Homo sapiens: one gene and its partners. The protein of the gene in region 2 purifies or fractionates together with the protein of the main gene of each other region. This does not show direct contact. Each region holds a gene or a part of one and is shown on either strand. Other genes may lie near its edges.

Region 1 (7,980 bases), on a different chromosome or scaffold from region 2:
CCCAATTTAAAACAGGAATTGTTTAGGTGCCAATTTAAAACTTAGGAATTATTTCTGATATTTTCCACTTAAAATATTCAGACTGTGGTTGCCAAGAGTAATGAAACCTTGAGAAATGAAACCGAGGATAAGGGGAGGACTACTGTATTTCATGATATGCTGGTGTGGATAAAAATAGGTGCAACCTTACTGAAGTTGACCATGAGGTTGATCACCTGTTGACCACTGAATAGGCCCCACAGACAAAAGCTCCTGATCTGAGGAATTTCGAAGGGAACAAAGACCACCTGGTGACCACCAAACGGGCCAGACAGAGGCGAAACTCCTTTTCTGGGAATTCAGAAGTAATTAAACTTTCCTAGTATCTAAAGTCTGGTTCCAGGCCTCTTTCAACTTTTACAAGTAACTAAAATTTATATACATCTCTGAAATGCCATGCCGAAACTCTTTTTACTATCCTAAGCTCCTGCCTTAAGGTCCATAAATACCTCTAAAGAAAAATCCATGGCAGCACACTTAGTCCTCTTGCTGAGGCGCCCCACTGCACTCTTCTGCAGTGTTCTGTTACCGCCTAAGGGGTTCACCTTGCCCATGCCTAGACAGAGTCAATTCATCGAGACAGGGGAATTGTGATAGAGAAAGAGTACTTCACGCAGAACCAGCTGTGTGGGAGATCAGTCTCCCCGAGCACGGGGGAGCAGAGTTTTAAAAGATAACTTCGTGGGTGGGGGGAAGCCAGTGAGCCAGAAGTGCTGATTGGTCAGGGATGAAACTGTAGGGAATCAAAACCGTCTTCCTGCACTGAGTCAGTTCCTGGGTGGGGGCCACATAATCAGATGAGCCACTTTGGGCAGCCAAAGTGAGTGGATCACCGGAGGTCGGGAATTGGAAACCAGCCTGGCCAACATTGTGAAACCCTGTCTCTACTAAAAAACAAAAAAAAAAAAACAAACAGAAAAAGCCAGGCGTGATGGCAGGTGCCTGTAATCCCAGCTACTCGAGAGGCTGAGACAGGAGAATCACTTGAATCCGGGAGGCGGAGGTTGCAGTGAGCCGAGATCGTGCCATTTGCACTCCAGCCTGGGCGACAAGAGCAAGACTCCGTCTCCAAAAAAAAAAAAAAAAAAAAAAAGAGCCAGTTTATTGATGTGGGTAGTGCCAGCTGACCCATCAAGTACGGGGTCTGCAAAATACCTCAAGCACTGATCACAGGAGCAGTTTAGGGAGGGTCAGAATCTTGCAGCCTCCAGCTGCATGACTACTAAACCAAAAATTCTAATCCTGTGGCTAATGTTAGTCTAGTCCTCAGACAAGAAGGAAGTCTGCTTTGGGAAAGGGCTGTTACCCTCTTTGTTTATAAACTAAGTTTCTCCCAAAGTTAGTTCAGCCTACGCCCAGGAATGAACAAGAACAGCTTGGAGCTTAGAAGCAAGATGGAGTCGGTTACGTTAGATTTCTTTCACTGTCTCAGTCATCATTTTGCAAAGGCTGTTTCAGTTCTTCCTTTCTAATAAACTTTCCTTTTTTCAAACCTATACTGTTTGTAGGTATGGTAAATTCATTTTACCAACCTGCGAGTTGACCACTTCCCGGTGCCAGGGCTCTGACACCTTGCCAGGCACTTACGGAAAGATAATTGTAAAAATCTAATAGAATTTTAAATTTCCATGCCTTCGAACCCAGCAGCCAAACTTCCAGAAATTTATCCTACTAATATAATGGCACGACGATCTAAAGAGATATGTACAAGGATGTTCTCGACAGCCTTTATTTAATAAGATGTGGAAAGAACCTTAAATGTCTACTCAAAATTGTTGAATAAATCACATGTCTACAAAATGAATAATGCAGACTTTAAAAAGAGTGAGGTAGCTCTATGTCACCAAACTGGAACAATAAAAGCCACTATAAAGTATAAAAAGCAAGCTGAAGACTGTCTCTATGTTTGAAATTTTTCATAATAAAAAATGAAAAAAATGGAGGGGGATTAGATATATTGCCTTTTCATGAGTAAGAATCTCACAAGTCTTGGACAATTAAACCCCGCCTTCATCCCTCCCATCTCATCATATCTGACCTCAACCAGTTTCCTACCTACACTGCTTATATGCCCATTTGCTCTATATGACTCAGTCATTTCAAGATTGCTTCTGTTTTCCCTTATTGATATAAAAATATTAAAAATGTATATTTAAAATTTGTTTAATTACATCCCATTATTACAGTTCATTTTTGCATATTCCTGTGTTGAAAATCCTTTGGTATAAATCAACATCAAAACTCGGTGTTATTCCACTTTTCTTGAACTGTAATCCTTTTTAAACAAGGAATATACCTTTTCTTGTTTAGAGAATATACGTACATTCATAAATCTTGGCAACTTTCAAAGGCCATAACAAATTTGTGTTAAGAATTCAGATCCCCTTTATTATTGTGGTAAACAGACAGATGAAATTAAGAGATTATAGCTTGTTTTCACTCTCTCCCAATTACTATCGCTTGAAAAATACCGGATATTTCATTATTATCCTGTCCGGAGTCGGCAAACTACGGTCTACTATCTGTCTTCGTATACGTCAAAAGCTAAGAATGGTTTTTACATTTTTAAATGACTGGGGAGGGAGGGCCAGAATCCAAGGGGAGTATTTAATGACACTTGAAAATGTTATTAAATTCAAATTTTAGCATCCATAATAAAGTTTCATTGACACACAGCCATGCTCATTTAGCTTTTGTTTGTTTTTGGAGACAGAGTCTCGCTCTGTCGCCCAGGCTGGAGTGCAGTGGCGAGATCTCGGCTCACTGCAACCTCTGCCTCCTGCTTTCAAGCCATTCTCCTGCCTCCGCCTTCCAGGTAGCTGGGATTACAGGTGCGCGCCACACGCGCCACACGCCCGGCTAATTTTTGTCTCTACTAAAAAGTAGAGACAGGGTTTCGCTATGTTGGCCAGGCTGGTCTCAAACTCCTGACCTCAGGTGATCCACCCGCCTCGGCCTCCCAAAGTGATAGGATTACAGGCGTGAGCCACCGCGCCCAGCCTTCATTTAGTACTGTCTAATGATGTTTTCATACTGCAAGGAGAAAGCTGAGTATGGACCACAAGGCCAAAAAGATGTCCTCTCTGGCTCTCTACAGCAAAGATTTGCCAAGCCCTGTTATATGTCATACTACTTGCGCTTCATAATTTTATAGTTTTACCTAGACAGTCTCCCTTTTTTCCTTCCATATTCAGCATAAAATCCCCTTAATATCAGTCTCTAGGCAAGCACATTCTTCACAGTCCTTAGAACTGGACCTCCTCTTGTTAATTTCCTTAGTCTAATCACATTCCTCCTGGTTATCTACAAACAGAAAGCCAGAAAGGAGGGCTATCAACATCTTAAGCGCCACAAATTAACAAATCAAAACCAAATCTCTCTCTCCCTCCGAAGCCACGGCTAAGGAGGCTCACTGCCCAGTTAGTGGCTTTCAAACTACCCTTACAAGTGAGACATCTTGTGAATTAGAACAAGTGCTGCTGCTAAAATCCCTAACGGCTACATAGCAATGTGAAAAAAGGTATCAAATGTAATTTTCTCAAATTTAATCTTCTTCAATTCTTGGCACAAAAAAAGGAACAGTAAAGGTAGACAACTGTAATTAGCATGTGTGATCCCAAATCTTTATACCTTAGATACTGGATTATATTTTCAGCAAGTAAATAGTTTCTGGCTCCCAAGATGAGAGGTTAAATAATGCAGGGTGTTTGTAAACAGCAGCACAATTTACACCGGAAATTAGGGCCCTTTCTCACCGAGGAGAGTACAGCAAAATCTGCTCATCTCTTTCAATGAATATTCTCCATGACTAGTGCTGGCGGCGGGGAGGCGGAGCAAGCTATCTTTTCTACCAGCCGTGTCACACCCCTCCTAGCACTAACCCCTCCTCCTCAGCCTTTTCACACCTCTACCCACTACTAGCCCCTCCCCAGCCCCATCACCTCTTCCCGGGCCCCTCACACCTCTCCCAGCATACTCTTCCCCAGCCTCATCACCTCACCCACTTCCTCCAAAATCACTGACCTGCTAAGCTTCCAGCAGCAGGCGGGCAAAGCAGGGAGGCTGTAATGCAAAAGTCCGCAGTCCCTACACAAACACTATCTGCTCCTGCGGAGAAACTCAAGTCACAGCCCCAGAAGTGGAAAGAACAGGCCTTGGCTCTCACCCAGTTAACAAGCGTTTATCCAGCGCACGTGTTGCGGTCGGACCCCATGCGAAGGAGCTAAGGACACAAAGGTGAGCAGCAGAGACGCGGTTCCAGCTCTCCCCCGGCTCCCACTCCAGCGGGATAGGTAGATAATTTCGGTAAATTTCGCCAAGCAGGGGCAGGACAAAGAGTATTTGAAGTCTACCGCGGGGAGAACTTACCTAATCCTTGAATGTTAAAAGGCTAAAAACTCCACTAGTCGGAAGTGACGTGCCAGCTTAGCCCCGCAGGTCCGCCACGTAATTGGCCGCCGCCACAGCTAGCCACCCTCTCCCCAGACTGGCCCGAAGAGAGGAAAAGTGTGGAAGTCCACAAGCCGCCCCCGCCCCGCCCTCTTCGTCGACTTTCAGCTGCACCGGGAGGCGGCGGCGCCTGGCCAGAGCCGGGGCCTGGAGCCTGGACTAGACAGCCTCGCCGGCCGGGGCGCCAGTCCAGCGCCCTGCGGGCAATGGGCTTCAGCGCTCGAGCACGCGCATGCGCGGGCCTGTATCTCCAGAGGATTCCTCGGGTCACCTGGACGCCAGCATCTCAGCCACCTGCCCCTCTGGGTCCCTTCTTGCCCTTGATTCCCCCTGCTGCTTCTCATCGCCAGCCCTCCTCCTCCTTCTTCCGCAGGCACCGCTAGACCCGGCCGCGGCCGCCCGCCGACACCCCAGCTTCCACTGACACGAGCCTCGGCGCGGCTTCCGCTTCCGGCGAGTATTGTGTGTCGCGCCGCGGGGCGGGGGCGAGGGGAGGAGGAAGGAGGGAGGCAGCGCTCCGGCGGCTCCGCGCCCCGCACTCCCGGACCCGAAGCCGGGAAGGTAGGTGCTGTCCCGCCGCCGCGCCCGAGCCTGGGGCCTGCGCTCGCCGGCCGGCTCCGCAAGCCGCGTCCCAGCGCCCCGCGACTGCGTCACCGGCCCCCCGCACGTAACCACAGCTGCCTCCGCCCGCCTCGGGCCCGGGCGGACGTTTTGCCGCCCCGGCGACGTCAGCGCGTCCGGCGTTGCTTGGCTACCCCGCCGTTCCCCCGTCCCGCTGCTGCTCACCTCCCCGGGTGAAACTCTGACGCAGTCACCGCGGGTCTCGGCAGCGTCATAGCGGCGGGCATCCCATCTGCACGTCACACCTCTTTCTCACCTGGACACGCATCCCTTCCTACCCTGCCAGCCACGACGTTTCCTCTTTCCCCTCTCCAATGCCCCAGCCCCAGATCTGGCGGAAGAAGATGGAGAACGGGGGTGGGACAGAGTTGTGGACAACCTCTCAGGAGAGGGTCGCAAGGTGGGACCCTGAACAGTGGTAGAAACAAAATGAGATTGTCCCTGAAGTTTGCCCTTCAGCTGAGACACAAGGAGTAGAGGAAGAGGAAGGACTAACGCAGAGGCACTCAAGGTCTCACTATGACTGTAGTTGAGAGTCCTCTCCCTTCTTCCCTAACCCTTTCCCCATTTCTCTCACCACTTCTTTGCCAGTCTAGATCCGTCCTGGTGCCTTACTGTGCATACAGTTCTACTCGTCTCAGGTGAGGAGGCCACTTAATTTGTAAAAGACTGAGGAAGGGGTAGGATCACCACAAGTCAAAGTTGGATTCCCACAGATAGAAATCATCTGACTGAACTTCTCTCCTATTGCTGACAGAAGAAATTCAAATCCAAAGAAGTTATCAGTTCCTACTCCAAATCAAACACATTTGTGTGTGCCAACAATATATACAGGAACAATTGTTGTTAACCTACCTCATTACATGGCCACTTATCTCTCAGCACATAGATCTACCAAATTTCCTTCCTTCCAGTAGGTCCCTGGAGAAGGATGGGGGTCGGGAGGAGAAAAGGTTATGGGGATAGTTAAATCAACTTACCCATGGCTAAAAGTATGGATGTTTTAAGGATGGAGTAGGGGGCCAGCCTTGTGTTTTATAAATCTCTCCTATGCATTTCCAATTCTTCTGAGGCTGCGCTTGAGGGAGATCTCATTGCCTCTTTTGTGTCTCTTAATTCGCAACCACTCCAGGACCTATAAGTTGGAGACACACTATGCCCAGGGTGTTAGTTATCAATAGCTATATTGAAAGATTCCAGTCACTACAAATAGACTCGTTGCTCTCTTTTCAAGAAGTCGTTGGCCTGAGCTCAGCAATATTTAATATGGTTGCCATAATTTATCAGTTTTCAGCAGTTCTGAGTGTCCAGATGAACACAAGAGAAATGGAATGTTGCGTGAAATGTCATTCCAAGAAGAGAGCAGATTTCCTTTAGGCTAGTCTGATGGATAAAAGGAAGAATAATTTCAGATTTTCCTGAAAAGAGGAGGTTGCCTTTGCCTCATTCATTCCATTTGTTAGCCTTTAGAGCAGTGGTATCTAACCCTTTCAATATGAGGACTCTCTTTGCTTATCTGTGGTGGCTGATAAAAATTATGCATGGACCTTCTGTGGTGGTGATAGAACAAAAGTTATGCATGGACTTTTTTTTTTTTAAGCTTATCAGCTGTCATTAGTGTCAATGTATTTTATGTCTGGCCCAAGACACTTCTTCCAGTGGGCCCAGGGAAGCCAAAAGGTTGGATATTGTGATTTAGAAGAATGAGAGAACAGTGTCAGAGAATCAAGCTTAGACTCCAGTGGATTAATCATAAAGCTCTTATAACATTAAACTTTAAAATATGGTTAATTTAAGAAATGTTAATATTTTTATGACTTTTTTACTTCTCAGATTCCTTTCTTGTCTGTTAGAAACGTATGTCAAACGAGGATACAGTGTCTGGAACTATTGGTTCTAAGATATAAGTGGAATGAGCCTGGATCAGGAGAAGTATGCTGAGCTAGAGTTGAAGGAAGCTTCTCTTTCTAACAAGAGAAAGCAGAGGTAAGAGACAAGATAGATCAATTGGGGGTTGTGTGTCAGTTTACTAACAAGAAAAAAAAGGTTGATGGCTGGGAGTCACAAGTTTTGAAAATGGAGAAACAAAGAGGTTGAATTGATTGGAAGAGAAGATGGAGAATAACAAGAAGGGGCAAATCTGGAGTTAGGACTTAACATAGGGATAAATGTCGGGTCAGGGATGCAAAAAAAAAAAAAAGAAAAAACCTCCAATTAATATTTTTATTTTCTCTGTCCTCTTCCCCACTCCCAAGTTAAATTATGGCAGAGACAAGTCTGTTAGAGGCTGGGGCCTCTGCAGCCTCTACAGCTGCGGCTTTGGAGAACTTACAGGTGGAGGCGAGCTGCTCTGTGTGCCTGGAGTATCTGAAGGAACCTGTCATCATTGAGTGTGGGCACAACTTCTGCAAAGCTTGCATCACCCGCTGGTGGGAGGACCTAGAGAGGGACTTCCCTTGTCCTGTCTGTCGAAAGACATCCCGCTACCGCAGTCTCCGACCTAATCGGCAACTAGGCAGTATGGTGGAAATTGCCAAGCAGCTCCAGGCCGTCAAGCGGAAGATCCGGGATGAGAGCCTCTGCCCCCAACACCATGAGGCCCTCAGCCTTTTCTGTTATGAGGACCAGGAGGCTGTATGCTTGATATGTGCAATTTCCCACACCCACCGGGCCCACACCGTTGTGCCACTGGACGATGCTACACAGGAGTACAAGGTGGGGAAGCAGACACACGATGTCAGTGTGGGTAAAAAGGGAGAAGCGGCAGAGGATGAGATACTCCCTAGGTAGAGATCGTAAGCTCCTACTACTCACTTTGTATTCTCAGAGCTGCATATGCAGGGGCACACAGTATGTGTGATCAGTTGTCCT
Region 2 (7,678 bases):
TCATGAATCACTATCGCTCTGTCATGCAGGAAGACATAGCTAGTGAGGAAGAAGGTGAGAACTCCCACTAATAAAATGAGTGAGAGTCTCAAAGAGGGGGAATAAGGGAGGAGACTGCCCCTCATATCCTCTTATGCCCAATTTCTGCCTCCAAAGAAAGAAGAAGTAAAAGCTAAAAGGCAGAAATGAAATCTACAGGTAGACAGCCCGGCGCCGCACCCTGGGCCTGGTAGTTAAAGACTGACCCCTGACCTAACCGGTTGTGTTACCTATAGATTCCAGACATTGTAAAAATCCCTGTCCCGTTCTGTTCCGTTCTGATTACCAGTGCATGCAGCCCCCAGTCACGTACCCCCTGCTTGCTCAATTGATCACGACCCTCTCACGCGGACCCCCTTAGAGTTGTGAGCTCTTAAAAGGGACAGGAATTGCTCACTCAGGGAGCTCGGCTCTTGAGACAGGAGTCTTGCCAATGCTCTCGGCCAAATAAACTCCTTCCTTCTTTGACTTGGTGTCTGAGAGTTTTGTCTGCATCTTGTCCTGCTACAAGCTCACGGCAACCTCTGCCTCCTGGGTTCAAGCAATTCTTCTGCCTCAGCCTCCTGAGTAGCTGGGACTATAGGCACGCACCACCACGCCCGGCTATTTTTTGTATTTTTAGTAGAGATGGAGTTTCACCCTGTTGGCCAGACTGGCCTCGAACTCCTGACCTATGATCTGCCCGCCTCGGCCTCCCAAAGTGCTGGGATTATAGGCATGAGCCACCGCACCTGGCCCATACAGCTTTTATAATATTATAGATTTTTTTCTTCCCAATGTTTTAAGAGATGGGGTCTTGGCCGGGCACAGTGGCTCACGTCTGTAATCCCAGCACTTTGGGAGACCAAGGCAGGCAGATCAACTGAGGTCAGGGGTTCGAGACCAGCTTAGCCAACATGGTGAAACCCTGTCTCTACAAAACATACAAAAAATTAGCTGGGCATGGTGGCGGGCCCCTGTAGTCCCAGCTACTCGGGAGGCTGAGGCTGGAGAATCACTTGAACCCAGGAGGTGGAGCTTGCAGTGAGCCGAGATTGCACCACTGCACTCCAGCCTGAGCAACAGAGTCAGACTCCATCCGAAAAAAAAAAACAGTTTTGAAAGTGTTGAGCACCCGATTCTATCGCTGATCGGGGCGCCACTTGTAACCTGCACGGACCTAAGGGGACTGAACAAAGGGGGCGAACTCGGGAATAAAGACAAGAGACAAAAGAGTATATTTGGAAGAGGGCGTCAGGGGGCACCTTGCCTCTAGTGGACAAGGGCCCTGAGCTTTACACAGCCCTCCGTATCTATTAGGCAAAAGAGATAGTGAGAAAAGGGGGGTGATTGTCGGGTAATTGTCAGTCGGCCTTGAACAGGCTGCATCCTTTGGACAATAGAGTATTTCTCAATAGATAACTTCAAGGAGCCCAGAGCCAGGGAGCGAGGCCCTCAGCAAACCTTTTGGTGGCAGGGCAGTGTGAGTTCACCCACATCCTGCATTCATGGTAAACAGTTTGCTGTTTGATCATAGAGCCTCCAGCGGAATGCTGAGTTGGTCACGTCCCACGGGCCTTCGGCTCCCTGCATGAAGCTATGACACAGGTGCCCTCCCTACAGTCTTTCCCAGGCCTGCTGGGTCTCAAGTAGCCATGTGGCACCCAGGGAGGCTGTCAAGGCTGTCTGAGGCCCGAAGTTACATCCTAGGTTAGAGCTCAGGACAGAAGACAGAGCTGTGAAGGCAATGCCTGGAGGATCCAACCTCTCCCAGAATAGCCAGGAGGCAAAACTGGCGAAAGGGGACCACATGGGGCTGGATTCTGCTTGGGAGCTGCTGGTCGAGGCACTGAGAACTTGTCCCCAGACCTCACCATGGCCACCTGTCCAGCCCCGATTCCAGAGGCTCAAAACCAAAAACATAAGTAACAGCAAATCAACAAGTATTAAATTATATGTAACTAACAATTTTGAAGACATTCCTATTGACATAGGATGTTGTTCTCAGTCATTCTGCAAGCCAGGGACCTCCGGCCAGCGACGCCCCGCCAGGGCCTCGCTTGACACACTACCTGCTGCAGGAGACAGCCCGTCAACTCCCCCGAGTTCCCGAATGCTTGTCCACGGCCAAGAAGAATGAGGAGGCTCTGACAATCGAAGAGTGAGCAAGGCGGGGAATTTCACTGGGTGACGGGGCAGCTTTCAGTGGAGAGGGGACATGGCGTGGTCCCCCTACATGAAGGCAGGAAAGTTCCCCATGTTATGGACTCAGAATGGGGAGGGCGTGCTGATTGGTTTGTGAGTAATGCAAAAAAGGTTAAAGCAAAGGCACCACTGAAAGGTGGGCATGACAGTGTAGAAAGCCAATTAGAAAAGGGTAGGTATATGTAAAATAGGTGAAGGGTGGGACCAATCAGAGGAAAGTGCGCCAGACAGGAAGACAGGCTCTCAATCCGGTCTGAGGATTCGACTTGCAGCTTGGCTTTCAGGCTTTAAGCTGTTTTCAGCGTCGAGGTGGAGGTTTCACTGGGGACCTGCCCCCATTTGGCTGGGCATTTGGCTGCCTGCCTCCTGTCGCTATCACTCCTTTACTAGTGAGGACTAAACTGATCTTTTTCTCTCTTGCTCAAGTTCTTATCTAAAGGGCCTGGGGAGTCTGCCCTACAAACCATAAAATGTCATCAGATAGGTTTTATTTAACCCTATATAATTGGCTTAGTTTCCAACCTGACTCTAGCATAACGTCACATGACAGATAAAGGAAATCAAAATATTTTACTCTTTTTTTTTTTTTTTTTTTGAGACGGAGTCTCACTCTGTCGCCCAGGCTGGAATGGAGTGGCGCGATCTCGGCTCACTGCAAGCTCCGCCTCTGGGTTTCACACCGTTCTCCTGCCTCAGCCTCCCGAGTAGCTGGGACTACAGGCGCCCGCCACCATGCCCGGCTAATTTGTTGTATTTTTAGTAGAGACGGGTTTCACCATGTTAGCCAGGATGGTCTCGATCTCCTGACCTCGTGATCCACCCGCCTCGGCCTCCCAAAGTGCTGAGATTACAGGCGGGAGCCACCGTGCCCGGCCTATTTTACTTTTAAATATATTTCTTGGCTATACTTTGGATGCTTTCAGGTCATAGGTGGATTCAAAGATTTTCTGATTGGCAATTGGTTGAATAAGTTAAGTGATTACCTAAGACCTGGAATCTATAGAAAGGCGTGTCTAGGTTTGAACAGTTGGCCACCCTTGTGTGGGTGGAGTATTACATAGGTGCCTAGGCAAGAGACTGAAGGCACAAACTGTTTCAGTATAATAAAGAAAATAGTTAGAATAAGAATAGTCATAATACAAATTAGATATAGAGATGACCATGAACAATTATCAATCATTATTATAAACATTATTAATCATTAGCTTTTACCATTACTCTTTGTTGCATTACTAATATAACCTAGGAATAACCGGCGGATATAGGGTCGGGTGCTGAAGGGACATGGTGAGAAGTGACCTAGAAGGCAAGAGGTGAGCCTTCTGTCACTCCCACATCAGGGCTGCTTGAGGGCTCCTTGGTCAAGCCCTAACGCCAGTGTCTGGGAAGTCACCCGTTGCTTAGTAGACTGCGAAAGGGAGTCTCCTTTCCTTGGAGGAGTCAGGGAACACTCTGCTCCACCAGCTTCTTGTGGGAGGTTGGATATTACCCAGGCCTGGCCGCAGTCATCCGGAGGCCTAAACCCCTCCCTGTGGTGCTTCAATGTTCACGCTCCTTGTCCACTTTCGTGTTCCTCCTGTACTCCTGGTTCCTCTTTGAAGTTCGTAGTCGATAGCGGTAGAAGAAATAGTGAAAGTCTTAAAGTCTTTGATTAATGCTAACTTATGCTGCCTTCTCTCTCTGCTTCCGCTACCTAAGAGGGAAGGGCCCCCTGTCCTGTAATCATGTGACTTGCTTCACCTTGTCAATCACTTAGAAGATTCACCCTCCTTACCCTGGCCCCTTGTCTTGTATGCAATAAATATCAGCGCGCCCAGCCGTTTGGGGCCACTACCGGTCTCTGCGTCTTGATGGTAGTGGTCGCCCGGGCCCAGCTGTTTTCTCTTTATCTCTTTGTCTTGTGTCTTTATTTATTACAATCTCTCATCTCCGCACACGGGGACAACACCCGCTTAGCCCCGCAGGGCTGGACCCTACACCCTTGATTGGCTGGAACTGGGTGACTGGCAGGAGAGCAAGTGACAGTCTGTTCACACCTCCAGTTAGGTTACAGTTCACTTTGTAGGATAAACCTTTAGGCCGACTTTAGGTTATGAGGGCCGGGATCGGTGGTTCACGCCTGTAACCCCAGCACTTTGGGAGGCCAAGTCAGGCGGATCACCTGAGGTCAGGAGTTCAAAACCAGCCTGACCAACATGATGAAACCCCCGTCTCTACTAAAATTACAAAAAAATCAGCCGGGCGTCGTGGCGCTTGGCTGTGACCGGGGCGGGGCCTGCCGGCTGCGGCGGAACCACAAGCGGTGCGGGGCGAGGCGGGCGGCCTGGACGGCCTGGAAGGCCAGCGCGCACCACCGAGACGTGGGCTCCTAGAGGGGCCGGAAGCTTTCGGATAACAACTTCCGCTCGGGAAGTTTGTAAAAGTCTGGGCTACCGGCGCGGCGTAGTGGATGCAGCATCCTAGTGGAGGACGCCCCTGTGGTGAGTGCGCCCGTGTCCCCCGCCGCCCCTCCGTCCCTGGGTCGTGGGCTGTCAAACCTTCTAATTCTGCGGCCGCCCCAGGGCTGTGAGACCCAGCGTCGCGGCTGCTGGGACAGACCGGGGAGGCTGCCCGTGCCCTCGGCTATTCGGGGGCTGTTCTTCAGCTTCTTCCGGCTCGGCCTCCTCTTCTCTCCTCGCTCCTTACACTTGCAGGTTTGTCAGGACCCGGTTGCGTATCCTCTTGAAGCTGGTTTCTTCCTGGCCGACCCCGTCCGCGATCGTGACCTTAGTTATCCCTCATAGACACTTTCCACACCTGTGTCTCCAGCCCTATCGCTCCGATGAGACCCGAGCGCTTAGACTTGATTCATAACACCCAAAGCTCCCCGGCCCCAGGCTGAGCTCCTGCAACCTCCACACCCCACCCTCTGGTCCTCCCAGGCATTCCACCGCGAAGGGGAGGAGGCAGAAACCCGAGATTCGCTTCTTCTCCTTTCCTGCCCACGCCCAGCCACACAGTCACTGGTGCGTTAGCTCCATAACTGAACCATTTGCCTCCTTGCCATTCCCACCCTGTAAGTCCCAATCCTGGCCGTCTTCCTCTCTCACCTGAACGCCTCCCTGTCTTCTCCCCACCCCCATCCTGTTTTGCTGCTTTCTCATTTGTTCATCACAGAGGATCTTTTATAAAATGTAGCTTAGCCAGGCAAGGTGGCTCCCGCCTGTAATCTCAGCTCTTGGGAGGCCGAGGCAGGTGGATCACTTGAGTCCAGGAGTTCTAGACCAGCTTGGTCAGCATGTTGAAACCTTGTCTCTACAAAAAATACAAAAATTAGCCGGGTGTGGTGGTGCACGCCTGTAATCCCAGTTACTCTGGGGAGGCTGAGGCAAGAGAATCGTTTGAACCCAAGAGGCAGAGGTTGCAGTGAGCAGAGATCGCGCCACTGCACTCCAGCCTGGGCGACAGAGCGAGACATCATCTTATTAAAAAAAAAAAAAAAAAAAAGGTAGCTTAGGCCGGATGCTGTGGCTGACGCCTGTAACCCCAGCACTTGGGGAGGCTGAGGCCAGAGGATCTCTTGAGGCCAGGAGTTTGAGATCAGTCTTGGCAACATAGTGAGACCCCGTTTCTGCAAAAAACTTAAAACAATTGCAGGGCATGTTGGCACATGCGCTTTTGGTCCCAGCTACTGGGGAGACTGAGGTGGGAGGATCACTTGAGCCCAGGAGGTCGAGGCTGCAGTGAGCTGTGATTGCACTACTGCATTCCAGCCTGGGTGACAGAGCAAGGACCTGCCTCAGAGAAAAAAAAATCCTGTGTTAATTTGCCTAGGGGAAAAAAAGTAGCTATGACAATATCCTTCTGTTCTCCCGTATTAAACTTTGTTGCATTACACATGAAACCACGGCTCAGGAGGCCTTGAGGAATCTGGCTTTAGCCCCTTTCCTGGCCTATCTCACGGTTCTCCCTGACTCTGCTTTCCAGGCTGGGAAGCCCAGTCCAGGTTGTGCAAACACAGCTGTTGAGCTGAGGGGAGAGGGTGTTTTTTTTTTGTTTTTGTTTTTGTTTTTTTTGAGATCGTCTCGCTCTGTCTCCCAGGCTGAAGTGCAGTGGCATAATCTCGGCTCACTGCAACCTCCGCCTCCCGGGTTCAAGCAGTTCTCCTGCTTCAGCCTCCCAAGTAGCCTGGCTAATTTTTTGCATTTGTAGTAGAGATGGGGTTTCACCATGTTGGCCAGGCTGGTCTCGAACTTCTGACCTCAGGTGATCCACCTGCCTCGGCCTCCCCAAGTGCTGGGATTACAGGCGTGAACCACCGCGAATGGCCGGGAGCTGTTATTTTTATCACTGTGGTCATTGCTACTTGCTAGAGGAACTCAGCAAGGTGTTCTAATTGGAAAACACCACCCATGACCCATGTGCTCAGTGTGCCTTTTCATGTTTTTATAGACCGTTGTATAACTTTGGTTGAAGTGTCTGTTCTAATATTTTGCCCAGTTTAAATTTTATTTCTCTTTTTTATTGATTTGTAGGAGTTACAATTCTTTATATAAGTCCTTTGTCAGATACATGTATTGGGAATATTTTCTCTTAGTCTGTGGCTTACCTTTGTGTCTCTTTTTAGAAAAAAAAATTTAAACAATAGAGACAGAGGTCTCCCTATGTTGCCCAGGCTGGTCTCAAACTCCTGGCCTCAAGCAATCCCCCTGCCTTAGCCTCCCAAAGTGCTGGGATTACAGGCGTGAGCCACTGCACCCCGTCTCCTTTTTTTTTTTTCTTAACTGCCTTGGTAAACAAAAATTTTTAATTCTGATAAATCCAATTTGTGATTTTTTTTTTTTTTTGAGACGGAGCTTTGCTTTTGTTGCCCAGGCTGGAGTGCAATGGCGCGATATCGGCTCGCCGCAACTTCTGCCTCCTGGGTTCAAGTGAATCTCCTGCCCCAGCCTCCTGAGCAGCTGGGATGACAGGCAAGTGCCACCACGCCTGGCTAATTTTGTATTTTTAGTAGAGATGGGGTTTCTCCATGTTGGCCAGGCTGGTCTCAAACTCCGTACCTCAGGTGATCCGCCCACCTCGGCCTCCCAAAGTGCTGGGATTACAGGCGTGAGCCACTGCATCCGGCCTGAATTTGTAATTTTTTAAAAGTGCTTTTAGGGATCCATGAAAGAAATGTTTGTCTACCCCAATGTTGTGAAGATGGTCTCTCTGTGTCACCCAGGCTGGAGTGCAGTGGCACAATCTTGGCTCACTACAACCTCTACCTCCAGTTTGTGTTTTTTGTTTGTTTGTTTTTGTTTTTGTTTTTAAGACGGAGTTTTGCTCTTGTTCCCCAGGCCGGACTGCAGGGGTGCGATCTTGGCTCACAGCAACTTCCACCTCCCGGGTTCAAGCGATTCTCCTGCCTCAGCTTCCCAAGTAGCTGGGATGACAGGTGCCTGCCACCATGCCTGGCTAATTTTTGTATTTTTAG
Region 3 (7,850 bases), on a different chromosome or scaffold from region 2:
TGAGCTCACTGTTCCTGCTGGCAGCTGTGTCAGCCCTGTTCATGTCCAGGCTCAGCCCTTGGGGCTGGGCCAGGGCTGCAGTGGGTTCAGTTGGGGGAATCCGAAAGAAAGGGTTTGTCCCAGGAGTCAGGAGCCCTTGGGGCTCTCTCCCGGACCTCAGCCAGGCCCGTTCCCTCCTGCACCTCAGCTTCCAGGACTGCAGTGGATGGTGGGGCACTACAGGATCTTTAAGCGCCTGCTGCCTTTCTCCTTGCAGAAGGCCCGCCGCTGAGCAACACCACGTTTCCTCATGTGCTGCCCCTCATCACCCTGCTGGAGTGTGACTCGGCCCCACCAGAGGGCCCTGAGCCCTGGGGCAGCACGGAGCACGGCGTGGAGGTGGTGCTGGCTCACCTGGAGGCCGCCCGCACAGTGGCACACCACGGAGGCCTGTACCACACCAATGCTGAAGTCAAGCTGCAGGGTGAGTGGCGGGTGGCATCTTGGGGGGCTTGCAGGCCTGGGCCTCCCTCCACCTGCCTCACTGCTTCCCTTTTCTCCAAGGCATCCATTCACATTTCTCCACTCCTCTGTCCTGCCCTGTCTCCCTGACCCCTTCCTCTCATGTCTTTTCTTTTCTTTTTTCTTTTTTTTTTGAGATGGAGTCTCACACTGTCGCCCAGGCTGGAGTGCAGTGGCACAGTCTCGGCTCACTGCAACCTCCGCCTCCCAAGTTCAAGCGATTCTCCTGCCTCAGCCTCCCGAGTAGCTGCAATTACAGGCGTGAGCCACCATACCTGGCCAATTTTTTGTATTTTTAGTAGAGGTGGGGTTCCACCATGTTGGGCCGCTGGTCTTGAACTCCTGACCTCAGGTGATCCACCCGCCTTGGCCTCCCAAAGTGCTGGGATTACAGGTGTGAGCCACCGCACCCAGCCTAAAATGTATACATCTTTCTTAGGAAATAATTTGGAACTTAACAGAAAAATACGAAAAAAGAAAAAAAATCACCAAAAATCTGCAAACATATTTAACATTAATATTTTATGGTCTAGTCATTTTTAAATTATATGCTGCAAATAACAGGACAAAGATGCTAAACTACAGGGTCGTGTTGATTCACAAACCTTGTTGGATCCCTGGCGGAGTTGAGGGGAGGTCCCTAACAGGGGGGTCCTGAAGAATGCTAGGGCTCTGGACAGGAACCCCAGCCTCTGCCCTGACCCTATGCCCCAACACTGCAGGGTTCCAGGCCCGGCCGGAGCTCCTGGAGGTGTTCAGCACGGAGTTCCAGATGCGCCTTCTCTGGGGCAGTCAGGGTGCCAGCAGCAGCCAGGCCCGGCGCTATGAGAAGTTCGACAAGGTCCTCACTGCCCTGTCCCACAAGCTGGAACCTGCTGTCCGCTCCAGCGAGCTGTGACCCCAGGGACATTTCCCCTCTGCAGCTGCGGACAGCGTCAGGGGCAGAGGGGCACACAACTTTCCCCAGAGCACCCCAAGGACACTGTGATCAACCCGAGAATGTTCTGGGTTCAACTCAAGCATCTCCCTTGCACCTCCAGGGTCCTGCGTGGACTCTGGGTTCCATCCCACCTGCTACATGCTCACCAGGTCTCCATTGAGGAAGAACAGGAACGCCGGTTCCCCCACCAGCTTTTGCTGCTCCCCTTCCTGCTGGGGTTCCCTGTTTTCGAGCCATGGGAGGCAGGCTGCTCACGCCTCCTCACTCTCTGTCTGTCCCTCACCAACACCAAGGCCTCCATCTCACTGTAAATAAGTCTCTGTTCTGTAAATAGATGTACAGAAGCCATGTTATTTCTTTCATATAATAAACTTTTATGACTCTTTATTCTGTCTCTCGGGCTCCTGGGGTAGAAGGAAGCACCTTTTCTCAGGCGAAAGGTAGAAAACTTCATTCAACAAATGTTGTGAGTGAGTGCCGAGTATCTGGGGCCAGTGGCATGGGAGTAAGAAGAATTTACCAAGACAGTTGTAGGTAAAGAAAGGCAGATTTATTTCAGGAAGCATGAAAATGCATTGCAAGGTAGCAACGGGCAGATCAGCAGAAGAGGAGCTGACTGCAAAGAGACAAAGCCTTGCTGTGAGTTTTTATGGGATGGCATTTCTGCTGTGTGCTGAACAGGGCTTTCTGCAGTACTGATAATGCCAAGGTTGCAGTGGGCTAACCTACATGTGTCCGGTGAGAAGTTGGGCACAGGAGGGCTGTGTGTCCTGAACCATCAAGAAGGCAGACTTCTGGCCAGGCATGGTGGCTCATGCCTGTAATCCCAGCACTTTGGGAGGCTGAGGCAGGCGGATCACCAGGTCAGGAGATCAAGACCATCCTGGCTAACATGGTGAAACCCTGTCTCTACTAAAAATACAAAAAATTAGCCGGGCGTGGTGGTGGACGCCTGTAGTCCCAGCTGCTTGGGAGGCTGAGGCAGGAGAATGGCGTGAACCTGGGAGGTGGAGCTTGCAGTGAGCCAAGATCGCGCCACTGCACTCCAACCTGGGCAACAGAGCGAGACTCCGTCTCAAAAAAAAAAAAAAAAAAAAAAAGGCAGACTTTGAGCTTATCTGCTTTCTCTTTTTGCTTTCCCCTGGTCCCATCAGCATGACTCATTTTCCCTAATTAGGACTCAACAACAAATACTTCTTTAGCACCTGGGACAGTCCAGATTGTGCCAGGAGCCAGGGTTACAGCAAATATGAAAACCCAATCCTTGCTTTCTGGGAGCTCACAGACCAGCGGGAGAGATAAATAGCTAATTCCAACCCAGTGCTCCTATCCCCTGCCCTGCCCTGGGATGGATGCCATGGCAACAGTTCCCACAAATGCACAACCAAAAATCCGAGGATTTGGGGTGGAAGGGCTTTTTGAAATCTATGATCCCAACTCCCCTCTTGAAGACTGGTACCTGAAAGGAGAAGGGACTTTTCCCGGGTCACAGCAGCAGCAGAGTGGGAAAGGCTCCACCTGGCTTCCTGGACCCAGACTTCTCTCCTTTTTTCTCCTTGATAGTGGGAACTACTCATTTTCTTCTTTTCTTTCTTTCTTTCCTTTTCTTTCTCTCTCTCTCTCTTTCTTTCTTGTTTTTTTTTTTTTTTTTTTTTTTTTTTTTGAGATGGAGTCTTGCTCTGTCACCAGGCTGGAGTGCAGTGGCACAATCCCAGCTCACTGCAACCTCTGCCTCCCGGGTTCAAGCGATTCTCCTGCCTCAGCCTCCCCAGTAGCTGGGATTACAGGCATGCGCCACTACGCCCAGCTAATTTTTGTGCTTTTAATAGAGACGGGGTTTCACCATGTTGGCCAGGATGGTCTTGATCTCTTGACCTTGTGATCCGCCCGCCTCGGCCTCCCAAAGTGCTGGGATTACAGGCGTGAGCCATCGTGCCCGGCCTCCTTCCTTCCTTCCTTCCTCTCTTTCTTTTTCTTTCTTTCTTCTCTTTCTTTCTTCTTTCTCCTTCCTTCCTTCCTTCCCTCCTTCCTTTCTTTTCTCTTTCTTTTTCTTTCTCTTTCTTTCTTTCCTTTCTTTCTTCCTTCCTTCCTTTCTTTCTCTCTCTTTTCATCCTTTCTGTTTCTCCTTTCCTTTCCTTTCTTTTTCTTTTTGAGATGGAGTTTCACTCTTCTCACTGCAACCTCCGCCTCCCGGGTTTAAGCGATTCTCCTGCCTTAGCCTCCAGAGTAGCCAGGATTACGGGAGCCTGCCACCACGCCCGGCTAATTTTCGTATTTGTAGTAGAGACGGGGTTTCGCCATGTTGATTCACGCGCCTCGGCCTCCCAAAGTGCTGGGATTACAGGCATGAGCCACCGCACCTGGCCGGAAATACTTATTTCTTTTTCAGGCTCTGATATTTGGCCCCAGAAGTCGTGTGTGTGTGTGTGTGTGTGTGTGTGTGTGACTATGTGTTGAGGTTGGTAGGGACAGGGTCTTTGAGGTGGGCCATGAAGGCTGTTGTCTTGGTTCCCTTACTCCAGTGGGTGGGGGAGGTGGGCAACGTGGATCAAAACGAATCCAGGCCAAGCTGGAGGCCTAGGGAGCCTGCGCGCTGAACCTCAAACGTCTGGAGTCCTTTGCCTTCTGAATCCTTTGACCAAGAGAGGCTGATAACATGCAACCACGCACTACGGCTCTGGTTGCAGCCAGACTTGGGTTTAGTTCTATTGTTTACCAGCTGCGTGACATTGGGTAAGAGGCTTAACCTCTTCGGTCCCAAATTCCTCCTTATTAAGATGGGGACAACAACAGAACCCATCTCCCAGGACTGATACCAAGCATTTGGCCACAGTTGCTGCTAGGTGAGGGACAGTCCTGTTTAATACACAACGGAATGTTGATGATCATGTATTGACCACTTTCTGAGCCAGACAATTTGTGTGCCTTTATCTCATTGGAACACCACCATTTCTCTGGATAGCAGATACTATTACCATATTATAAGGTATATAGGCACTTAGCACTAATGGCACAGAGTAAGTGCTCACCAAAAGCTGTTAGTGAGGGCACTTTTGTCATATAGAAGAAAAAAGGAGCATGGAAAAGGCGCTTTGCAAGGTGTAAGGTTCCGCACAAGTTTTTGCTGTAATTGTTACGTCGCCCTTTGTGGTCGTGATCCTTTATTTATTCTTTCTGAGCCACTACGATGGTCCCCTAGTTACCGTGGCCATGGAAACGCGGCCCGCCGTCCCGGATTGGACGGTTCGCGGGTTCCCCCTGGAGGCCACCTTCTGGTCCTGCTGCGGAACGACGGGCGGGCCTTGGAGGCGGGGAGAGGAGCGTCGGGAGTTGTAGGCGATGGGCGTGGCTGCTGCGGAGCGGTGCACGCCGGGAGTTGCAGTTCCCGGGCGAGGCAGTTGACTGCCCCACAACGAGCTCGGGCCTCACCCGGATGGCGGCTGCGACGCGCGGCTGCCGGCCCTGGGGCTCGCTCCTCGGGCTGCTCGGGCTGGTCTCGGCCGCGGCCGCCGCCTGGGACCTGGCTTCCCTGCGCTGCACCTTGGGCGCCTTTTGCGAATGCGACTTCCGGCCCGACTTGCCGGGTGAGGCGCCAGGGAGCCCGGAGCGAGGGGCGGGCGGACGCGGGCAGACGCGGGAGCGCTGGGAGCCCTGGGAGCCCGGCTGGCGCCGGCCAGAGAAGCTGAGGACCCAGAGGGTGGGACCGAGGGGCGGGGCCCGCAGACTTGGGAGGGTGGAGGGTACCCGTTGAGGTCCAGGAGGCCCTGCCAACCTGGAGAGAGGCCTCAGCCAGCAGAACCCTTGGTGGAAGTTCTTGGGCCTCCCCGGAATGGCCTGGCCGTCAAAGGAGAAGTGCAGTGCGCCTTGGGGATGGGCGGGGTCTGCGGCTGACCCCGTTGACAGCTCGCATTTAGAGCTGAGTGCAATCTAGAGGACCGCCTGGTGGGGGCGCTGCCGAGCTGAATCAGGCCCGAAGGTGGCTCTTTTCCGCCACAGACCCCAAGGTTTGCGTGCCATGTGCATAGGCAGCTTGGACAAACGTAAGGACACAGGAGTCCCAGACCAGGTTCCAGACATGATGTTCTCCTTGAACCTCTGCCTCGGTGGGATGTGTCCTCACCATCCTCCTGTGGCCCTAGGTCTGGAGTGTGACCTGGCTCAGCACCTGGCCGGCCAGCATCTGGCCAAGGCGCTGGTGGTGAAGGCGCTGAAGGCCTTTGTGCGGGACCCAGCCCCCACCAAGCCGCTGGTCCTCTCCCTGCACGGCTGGACCGGCACCGGCAAATCCTATGTCAGCTCCCTGCTGGCGCACTACCTCTTCCAGGGCGGCCTCCGCAGCCCCCGCGTGCACCACTTTTCTCCCGTCCTCCACTTCCCCCACCCCAGCCACATCGAGCGCTACAAGGTAGGCTGGATGCGTCCTTGACCACTGTTCTCACCATGGGGTGCCACCCTAGGGAGTAAGTCCTGAGCCCAGACAGGGGAGTCACCTGCTCCAGGCCACACACGGCTGCAGCCCCAGCCCTCAGGACCCATCCTGCACAGAACTTGGGAAGGTGTCATTCTACCTGGCAGGGAGTACTTTGATTCCTTGGGGCAGTAAGGAACCCTGGCAGTACCTACATGCCAGGGTTGTTGTGAGGGACATGAGATTATACCATTGCAGATATCATTTATGGAGCACCTATGTTTGTCAGATAATCTGCACTGTTGTCTTGCTGGAAATCAGCCCCAATTTGTGGCTCAGAGGAAGCATCAGGAAATATTGGCTCTTACTACTACTGTTGTTGATTGCAGGGTACCCACCAGGCTGATCAGTTTCAGCCGTCAACACTGCTGTGTAGTTTCAGGGAGCAGGAAGGAGCCTTCCCCTTTTATAGAAAGCAGCAAGTGTCGTGGAAGGAGCTCTGAACAGGGAAGTGGGAGGCTTGGGTTTGAGTCCCTGTTCTGACTGGCTGTGTGACTTTGGGCAAGTCTCTGCCCCAATCTGGGATACAGTTTCACCATCAGTCTCACTAAGAGGTTGGTGCTCTCTGGAAGACCACATCCTTCCCTAGAAAGGAGATTAGTTTTGGTTTGGGAAGAGGTCTGGTGTTGGGGGAGTTTCTCCAGCTCCCCTGGAACTCCTGTCTCTCCCCTACAGAAGGATCTGAAGAGCTGGGTCCAAGGGAACCTCACTGCCTGTGGCCGCTCCCTCTTCCTCTTCGATGAGATGGACAAGATGCCCCCAGGCCTGATGGAAGTCCTGCGGCCTTTCCTGGGCTCCTCCTGGGTGGTATACGGGACCAATTACCGCAAAGCCATCTTCATCTTCATCAGGTGGGGCCCGGCTTTGCAGTGGGCACAGTGGGGGGGCCACTTCTCAGAGGTTCAGCTCTACAGCCTTAGCCTGTGCTCCCAGCAGAATCCAGTTCCCCATGGGCTTAGCTGGGCTTTCCCAGTGCCCTCCGCCACTCTCAGAGATGACATTGTCATTCCGCCTGGTTGATTTCCCTTTGGACATTCTCAGCAAATTCTGGGCTCAGTCTTTTTGATCGCCACTTCTTTGTGGAAGCCCTGCCAGGTCAAGAAGTTTTCCCTCTTTTGTGGTGAGGAGGACACAGGCCTGGGAAAAATAGGAACAGAGTTCTTGTCCTTTAGTCCCAGCTCTCAGAATCCTCGCTGTGTTTCCTCAGGCAGCATGGCTCCGCCTCTCTGAGCCTCTGTCTCTGCTTCTGAACAGCGGGGCCAATAATGATGCCCCGATGCCTTCCTGGAAGTTCAGTGAGGGAAAGTCAGTTGAGGGACACAAAAGTGTTTTGTAAACTATAAAGTACGTGGCATGTGTAGGTGAATTACAGGGGCCATGGATGTGGACACCATGGAGGGGGAAGTGGAGCGTTTTCAGTGGAGTTGGCTCCTCCCCGCACTGAGCCATGTTCCTATGTCAGGTGGCAGCGGGGAAGCGAGGGTCCAATCCTGCCCTGCGCTAGTCCTCATCTGAGTCTCAGCCTGGGTCCCCCATGGTTTTAGCAACACGGGTGGCAAGCAGATCAACCAGGTGGCATTGGAGGCGTGGCGCAGCCGGCGGGACCGCGAGGAGATCCTCCTGCAGGAGCTGGAGCCGGTCATCTCCCGCGCGGTGCTGGACAACCCGCACCGTGAGTCTGGCTCAGCAGCCCCCTCCCGGGCAGCTTCACCCCACACCCAGGGGCCAGGCTCTCCCGGGGTCTCATGCTTTGCCCACTGACCCGGCAGTTCTGAGCCTGGCTTTGGCACTCCCAGCTTTGTGACTTTGGGTGAGCCTTACAGCCCCTGAGTCCTACACCCAGAAGGCGGCTGAGGGAACTGAGGCCAGCATTTTTCCTCCTGCCCCTGGGGGTTTGGGGCCGGCTTCTCCCCTCTTGTGAAGCACAAAGTCCCCTCCCCA

The links.
Region 1: the proteins of ZNF707 (region 2) and TRIM39 purify together in Homo sapiens (affinity purification with mass spectrometry; 3 studies listed by BioGRID and IntAct, with this or other methods). This does not show direct contact.
Region 3: the proteins of ZNF707 (region 2) and TOR2A purify together in Homo sapiens (affinity purification with mass spectrometry, with the first as the bait; 3 studies listed by BioGRID). This does not show direct contact.

Annotation. Positions count from the first base shown.
Region 1 is NC_000006.12:30,321,947-30,329,926, forward strand, and holds the start of TRIM39 (E3 ubiquitin-protein ligase TRIM39), read left to right. Parts: upstream 1-4,980; 5' UTR 4,981-5,049; exon of another isoform or gene 5,050-5,210; intron 5,211-5,284; exon of another isoform or gene 5,285-5,750; intron 5,751-6,942; 5' UTR 6,943-7,095; intron 7,096-7,364; 5' UTR 7,365-7,371; coding exon 7,372-7,824; intron 7,825-7,980. Other genes in the region: TRIM39-RPP21 protein, read left to right, coding at 7,372-7,824.
Region 2 is NC_000008.11:143,679,840-143,687,517, forward strand, and holds the start of ZNF707 (zinc finger protein 707), read left to right. Parts: upstream 1-4,639; 5' UTR 4,640-4,703; intron 4,704-7,077; exon of another isoform or gene 7,078-7,175; intron 7,176-7,541; exon of another isoform or gene 7,542-7,639; intron 7,640-7,678. UniProt on the Homo sapiens protein: May be involved in transcriptional regulation.
Region 3 is NC_000009.12:127,732,295-127,740,144, reverse strand, and holds the start of TOR2A (prosalusin isoform a precursor), read left to right. Parts: upstream 1-4,850; 5' UTR 4,851-4,874; coding exon 4,875-5,025; intron 5,026-5,580; coding exon 5,581-5,846; intron 5,847-6,584; coding exon 6,585-6,760; coding exon of another isoform or gene 6,761-6,929; exon of another isoform or gene 6,930-7,371; coding exon of another isoform or gene 7,372-7,453; coding exon 7,454-7,581; exon of another isoform or gene 7,582-7,850. Other genes in the region: SH2D3C (SH2 domain-containing protein 3C), read left to right, coding at 257-463, 1,224-1,399. UniProt on the Homo sapiens protein: Salusins -alpha and -beta may be endocrine and/or paracrine factors able to increase intracellular calcium concentrations and induce cell mitogenesis. Salusins may also be potent hypotensive peptides.